Linked DNA regions of Homo sapiens. The protein of the gene in region 1 purifies or fractionates together with the protein of each later gene. This does not show direct contact. Each region holds a gene or a part of one and is shown on either strand. Other genes may lie near its edges. The genes, in order: GPRIN3 and NLN.

What was found.
Region 2: the proteins of GPRIN3 (region 1) and NLN purify together in Homo sapiens (affinity purification with mass spectrometry; one large-scale study listed by BioGRID and IntAct). This does not show direct contact.

What each region holds. Positions count from the first base shown.
Region 1 is NC_000004.12:89,305,528-89,309,446, reverse strand, and holds the start of GPRIN3 (G protein-regulated inducer of neurite outgrowth 3), read left to right. Parts: upstream 1-1,646; 5' UTR 1,647-1,832; exon of another isoform or gene 1,833-2,061; intron 2,062-2,376; exon of another isoform or gene 2,377-3,919. UniProt on the Homo sapiens protein: May be involved in neurite outgrowth.
Region 2 is NC_000005.10:65,812,693-65,816,511, forward strand, and holds part of NLN (neurolysin, mitochondrial), read left to right. Parts: intron 1-3,819. UniProt on the Homo sapiens protein: Hydrolyzes oligopeptides such as neurotensin, bradykinin and dynorphin A. Acts as a regulator of cannabinoid signaling pathway by mediating degradation of hemopressin, an antagonist peptide of the cannabinoid receptor CNR1.

The DNA.
Region 1 (3,919 bases):
TTTGTTTTTTTGTTCTTGTGATAGTTTGCTAAGAATGATGGTTTCCAGCTTCATCCATGTCCCTACAAAGGACATGAACTCATCCTTTTTTGTGGCTGCATAGTATTCCATGGTATACATGTGCCACATTTTCCTAATCCAGTCTATCATTGACGGACATTTGGGTTGGTTGCAAGTCTTTGCTATTGTGAATAGTGCCGCAAAGTTTGATCTTTTGGCCAGTAGCATGGGCATTACCTGGGAGCTTGTTAGAAATGCCTATCCTGGGCCAGGCATGGCTCACGCCTGTAATTCCAGCACTTTGGGAGGCCGAGGCGGGCGGATCACCTGAGGTCAGGTGTTCCAGACCAGCCTGGCCAACGTGGAGAAACCCTGTCTCTACTAAAAATACAAAAATTAGCCGGGCGTGGTGGTGGGCGCCTGTAATCCCAGCTACTTGGGAGGCTGAGGCAGGAGAATCGCTTGACCCCGGGAAGCGGAGCTTGCAGTGAGCCGAGAGCGCGCCACTGCACTCCAGCCTAGGAGACGAAGCAAAAAACAAAAAACAACAACAACAAAAAACTAAAAAAGCGTTTCCTCAGTCCCTACCCCAGACCTATTGGATCACAATCAGCATTTTAACAAGACCCCCTAGGTGAGTCCTGTGTACTAGATGAGAGGATATATTTTGGATTGGTTTGAATCCCAGCTGAGCAGGTTACTACTGTGTGACCTCAAGCAAAGTGTTTAGATCATATAAGCCTGTTTCCTCGTCCACATGGTAAGGCACCTCAATGGGTTGTAGTAAGAATTAAAGAGGCTGAGGCTGTATGTAAGGCATTTTTCACAGAGCCTTCCAACAAATACCCAGTTAATAATGAAGCTCTTTTCATCGTATCATTTTGCACCATCTACAGCTGCTAACCATACTACACATCCATTCAGGATTCTGGAGCTGCTCAACAGGGAAGATTTCCAAAGCCCTCAAAGCCCTCCAAGCCCATGGGGTAGCGGGAAGGGGATGGGGACAGGAACACTGTCAGCAGTGCCTCTCCGAATACGCAGGATACTGTACATTTTGCAAAACATATTACTTATCGGATGATCTTGCTTTCAGATCTCCACTGCACGTGGCTTTATTGGAAACCTTCTGCTAGAGTCTAGACTCAGCCATGGAGTCTGGTGACCTGTGGGAGGGAGCAAGGGCCAGAATGCCTGCTAAATCGCTCTGGGTCCCCAGCCCTCTTCCTTAATCCCTTCTTAACTTTCCATCTGTCTCTGGTCTCCAGGGGTGCAGAACCACAACCCACCAGACCCCTCCTAGCTCCCGGCCCGGCGCTCAGCAGCCTGGGCTGCAACACTTTCCCCCAGGACCGGGAAGGCGGGGGAGGGGGTTTGGAGGGGGCGGAGCTCGGCCTCCTGCTGCCGCCGCTGCTGCTGCCGCCGCCGCCGCCTGCAAAGCTGTCGCCCCTCTCTCGGATGCTCAGGCTGGGCAGCGCTGGACAGATGGGTACACCCCGGGCCTGACGGATGAACAGTCGGGCAAGTGAACTCTCACCTCCAAACTGGCTCTGCGCCCGGCGGGGGCGGCGGCGGCGTCTGCAGCCCCGCGGTGGGGGCAGCCCCCTCGGTCTACGCCCGACTGCTGCGCGCCGCCTCTGCTCTTGGCATAGTAATTTCAGTTCCTGAACGCACGGAGCTCGCTCCGGGACCGGGCTGAGAAGGACCTCAGCTCGCGGGCCCGCCGGAGCCATCGGTGTGGCGCCGAGAGACGGTGCTTGGGATATGCGACGGGAAGCCCCCGCCACAGCGCAGGCAGTGGCCCCGCCGCGCCGCGGAGCCGGGCAGAGCAGGTAGGAGACGCCCCCTGCGCACCTCCGCCTGGCGGCCAGCGCGGGGGACCGGAGCCTGGTGGTGTGCTCTGTAGGGATGCGGAAGGGATTCGGTCCCACATTTTGCACAGGGATCCTTTGCCTGTTGCTCTTGTCTCTGTCCCATCCTGCGCTCTAGGAGGGGCAGTCTTTCTCGCAGGTGATGAATTTCTCTGCAAGGTCATTGCTCTCTTTGGCTCTGGCTTTGAAGGTAAATGGGAGAAGACGCCTGCTGATCGTGGGCAGGGAAATTTATAATCAATCGGGTCTGCACACTGCGAATATCCGAATATGAGGGGTGTGTGTGTGTGTGTGTGTGTGTGTGTGACATTTGTCTCATTTTCCTATGCTTATCCCCTTTAAGGTCAAAACATAGAAATATATATTACATATGGATGTATGTATGTGTGTGTATATACACACACATACATAAATGCATATGTAAATAGGTTTTCTTGAGGTAGGCAGAAAGAAGAGGAAGGGCGGGCAGGGGTTGATAAAGGGAAATCGTTGTAGAGACATGTTCACTAATAGAGGCGAACTTTGGAACCACATTAAATCAGGGTAGAGACTAGAGGTGATAAACGGTTCTTTCAAGATGGGCTTTAGAAGAGGTCTGAAGGAGCCTGTCAGCCAACACACACAGAAGATCTTCATGCTCTCCAGGCAGATGGAAACGATGTAGGCATCATTTCAGACGCAATAATGGACAGTGAAAGAGGGAAAAAAGGAGAGGTACTTAATATGCCACTGGGAAGTGAATTTTGGGTGATGGGAAGGCATCGAATCCAGACCAGGTTTCAAGGGCTTTCTGGAGGGCCATTGGGAGAAATCACCGCTTGGGGTGTAGGCAGTTCAAGGTTAAGACGATGTGAATGTCCACAAAGCAGCCGAGGAGGTGGGCAAAAGGCAAGGGCTTGGAGGGGGAGGGGAGAAACAGAGCTCTGAGCAGTCACTCAAGAAGCACCCACCTTTGAGTAAGGTGTCTTCTTCCTCTTGGTTAAAGCGGTACTTGGGTATGCTCCATCTAAATATTTTCACAACACATTTGTTTAAAGATCCATTGGACTATGTTTTTATTTTGTTTTTGCAAGGTATCTGGGTCATGGTGGGACTAGAAGAAACTGAAGTGTTTACAACACCAGCAAGATTTGGGAGAGAGGGTTGATTAAGGCTTTGCTTCATGAAATATTTACACATCTCCTGCGTGGGCTTTTGTTTGCTCTTGTTGGTGCTGCTGCATATTTTACTTTGATAATGCTTTGAGTGTACTTCGCCCGAATGTGCTTATTTTCCAGTTATAACCTATTCTTTCTTTTCCCATTGTGCTCACCATTGGCCTGCCCTGAGTAACAATTGTGGGAATAAAGGTACATGAGTCACAGCCCAAAGCAGAAAATCTCTGCTGCTATCTGCAAAAGACAGGAGTTTGCGTTAGAGAATGTTCTTTTTCGAGTTTTTGTGTGTGTTTAGTTTTTCAAGTTTTGTGTGTCTTTAATCGAGGGAATAGGTTATTGATTCAAAAGAGAAAAAAAAAACAGCAATTGCAATTGCAGGCCTAGATGTTATATGATTGAAATTTATTTTGGAAACAGCAGAGGAACTCATGGAGAGCCATGTACAGTGTGTTGTGGTGTGGTGAGCCTTCACCTAATCACTAACTAGACTTCTACGAAAATGATTAGGACAAAATCACAAGTGCATCAGCTTCACATGGGAAGTAGAGGACTGAGGCGTTGTATGAGTCAGATCAGTGTCAATTGGAGGGCAGGCTGGATTCCAGCAAGCTGTTTTGAAATTTGAGTGTTTTAATTGCCTCAAAAAAATTGCCCAATATGCTTAATTATTTGTTCCTGCAACATTTTCTTAATTATGCCTCAACATACTTAAAAGACTATATTTAGATCCAGCTATCCTTCACTGTTTGAATTTCCAGTTGCAAAATCTGCAGCTTGCAGGAAACACGGAAATATTGGTCTTGGAATCACAAAATTATAAAATGTTGGGCTCAGAGAAGGAGGACACATGATTCTAGCCACAGCTCTTATTTGAGCTCTTTCATTGGCAGC
Region 2 (3,819 bases), on another chromosome or scaffold:
ATGTACCATACAACATTTTAGTTTTATAGGAGGTTGGGAAAGAAAGGTAAACTCCTTCCTGATGTAAATGGTTTCCCTGTGTTTTGATATTCTCTACACACTTTGTGCACTTTCTGTGGGAGACGCCCTTTTTCTGTGGCTGGCATGCCCCACCCACTACATAGTTTGTGACCTTTGTCACAAAGTTGCTTCGTTAACCTGAGCCATTACTTTCTGTATGCAGTGAATTGACTGCCAGGTAGCTGCCAGACAAACCTTCCTGATTTACAGCCCCCAATCTCCATTCTCATTGAAGTCTCATCCATCAGATTATTTCCAAGGCTGATGCATTTTCCAATGTATGTTTTTAAATTCTTCGATTCAGAAATTAGAAGAACAAATTATCAAAATCAGGCTCTCTGTACTGATTTCAACCAATAGATTTTTTTCTCCAAATGTTTTTTCTAGATTGCATAGTACCTTATACATATGTATTGAAATACATTGATGTGATTTAGATCACCATTCCCTCCCCATCTTCCTCCTGAAATAACACCTCCAAGGTACCCATACTTCATTATTTTGAAGCATTTCATCTCCCATCCCACCCCACCCAATCTGTTAAGTCCTTGTAATTCTTTTTCCATTACCTGGCCAACCCATTTACAAAGGTCAACTGCTGACTATTGTTCTCACAGACATACCTATTCCTGCATGACCTTCAACCAGGACCCATCCCTTAATGCCTCCACCATAGAGATAGTGCCCTTAGGATTCAAAGTGTTCTGGGGAAGATTGTATGACTCCACTGACATGCCCAACTGCAAAGTCATGCATGTAGCCTGAACTGGACCCCAGTGTTCTCTGTGGTCCAACTCCATTCCCCTTATTGATTTCCCTCCAAGTTCCCACCACCTCTCTCATCTGTCAGCAGATGATCTCTCCTCTTTATTAAGAAAATTAAGATCATTGAAGCTGGCTGCAGTGGCTCACACCTGTAATCCCAGAACTTTGGGAGGCTGAGGTGGGAGGATCGCTCAAGTCCAGGAATTTGAAACCAACCTATTTGATATAGCAAGACCTCATCTCTACAAAAAATAAACAGAATTAGCCAGGTGTGGTGGTAGAAGCCTATAGCCCCAGCTACTCTGGAAGCTGAGATGGGAGAGTTGCTTGAGCCTAGGAGAGGTGGAAGCTGCAGTGAGCCGAGATCATGCTACTACACTCCAGCCTGAATGACAGAGTGAGATTATCTCAAAAAAAAAAAAATCATTGAGAATGAGTACCTTCATCTTTCTTTCTGTGTACTTCAATACTTGTCTTATTTTCTCCTGTCTCAGAGGAGATGTCTCTAGCTCCAGGAGTTCCTGGTAAGAGTTCCTGGTTTGCTGTCTTGGAAAAAAAACTTGCTACTGACTCTGATAACCCCAATCAGTGCTACTACTCTGTTCTTTTCACAGCCTAATTTCTTGGTATAAGAAGTCTTTGCAAACCTCTCTTTCCTTGCTTTTGCCCCAACCAACAGAAATGGAAAGTTACCCTTCCTCCGTAGTTACCACTGATGACCCAGTTACCAACTCCAAAGGCCCTCGTCCTTCTTCTTTACCTCCTGCTGCTTGTTATTCCTCTGTCTGTTCACAGCCCTCAGCTGGGCAATCAAACCCTTCTTTACTTCCCAGTACTCCCTGTGTGTTAGACAAGTTTATGTGTTCCCTTAGGTCTCTCCACCTTCACAAATTTATTCGTTCTATTTCGTTCACCTAAAATATATGCCTCCTTCATCTGTGCATCTCAAAAATTCCAGCAGTCTTAATTGAAGGTCTCACTCACATAACTGCATGTTCAAGAAGTCTTTGAAATTATCCAAAACCAAAAGTGATCTTTACATCCTTTGAACATATGAGTGGACTTGGAGGAGTGGACCAAGCCTTCCCCGTCACCTCCTCAGTGCTGCCACTATGTGACCACATACCCAGTACCTTCTCTCATTACCTTTTCTCTTCTCTTTTGGAGAACTGTCCCCAAAACAAATAGAAATTAAAAATCCAAAGATAAAAATAAAAAATGGAAAATAGACTAGTTTTTAAAGAAAAAAGACAAAAAAAAGTGGTCTTGAGCATGGAAGAAGGGCTTCAATAAGCTTTTACTATGTCTGCAATATTTAATGTAACTATTACCAAGTGAAAAAACATCATATTATAAAATATTTTATACCATACAATACGAATGTTGATTTTAAAGTGTGTTTTAAAAAAAAGTACATCAAAATGTCAATGATTATCTTTGGGGATAAGTTTATGAGTGATTATTAATTTTTTCTGTATTTTTCCTAGAGCTTTTCCTTATTTTTACATAGTACATAGATTATTTTAGAAGCCAGAAACAATGTTTCAAAGAGAAAAAAGTCTAACTAGGTAAAGGTACAATTATGACGTCTTACTGGCAATCATTGGTGAGGCTTCCTGGCATAAGTGTACACTGCCTCTCCCAGCCAAGCTTCGCCATCACCTCCTCTGTGCTTGCCCTTATGTGACCATATACCCAGAACCCTCTATCATTACCTTTTCTCTTCCAGCTGTCAAGGTAGCAGCCAAATTACTGATCCCTGTGGTTCCAAGGAACTTGCAAGTGTAATAGAAGCAATTCCTGCATTGTCTTCTCTATACTTCCTCTTATTCTCAGGCTTCACAGTTTGGCAGGCAGCCATACTACTCTTATTTAGACAAAGGTGCTGGGTTGAACTTAGAGAAAGCATCATCCCAACAACTTGGAGTTAAAACTTGTGATGTTGAAAACAATTTTCAGTGTTACTAAAATTCTGGATTCAGCAGTGCTGTTATTATTAGATGTCTTATGCCATAAGGCTGGTGTTAATTCCTTCCTTTACACTTTTTCCTTTCCTTTCAAATGCTCTGAGTATCATGGCACTTCCTGATCCTCTGCTGTCACAGCAATAATGGACCTGGCTCCAAAAGCCAAGAAGAATCCCTTGGCCCCTCACCCTCACACCCTTTGCAGATACTAAAAGATGATTTTTAAACAAACATTTTGTTCCCTCCTACAATATACTATTTGGGGTTTTTTGTTGGTGGCGGCGGGGGATGTTCTTCAAAAAAAAACCCACAAATATTTGCTCTAAAATAACACTTGCCTTACAAAATACAGGTACCCAGTTATTAAAAATTAATGCTTTGGGACAACAATCCTAGTCTCCAAAAAACTTAGATCATTATTATAGCTATGTGTGATGAAGAGAAAAAGAAATTCTTTTGTTGTCCCAAAGCATTAATTTTTGGTAACTGGGTACTTGTATTTTCTAATGTGAGTGTTACTTTAGAGCGAACATTTATTTTAAAAAGAAAAGAGGAAGAAGAACTCCCCCCACAAAAACAATGTATACCACGGAATACAGTGCAGCCAAGAAAAAGAACAAGATCTGAACCCAGAAGGCAGAGGTTGCAGTGAGCCAAGATTGCACCATTGCACTCCAGCCTGGGCAACAAGAGTGAAACTCATCTCAAAAAAAAAATAAAAAGAACAAGATCATGTCCTTTGTAGGGACATGGATGGAGCTGGAGGCCATTACCTTTAGCAAACTAACACAGGAATCAAAAACCAAATACCACATGTTCTCACTTAAAAGTGGGAGCTAAATGATGCGAACACATGGACACGTAGAGGAGAACAGCACACACTGGGGCCTTTTGGAGAAGGTGAAAGATGGGAGGAAGGAGAGGATCAGGAAAAGTAACTAATCGGTACTAGCTTTAATACCTGGATAATGAAATAATCTGTATGGCAAACCCATGTGACACAAGTTTACCTATGTAACAAACCTGT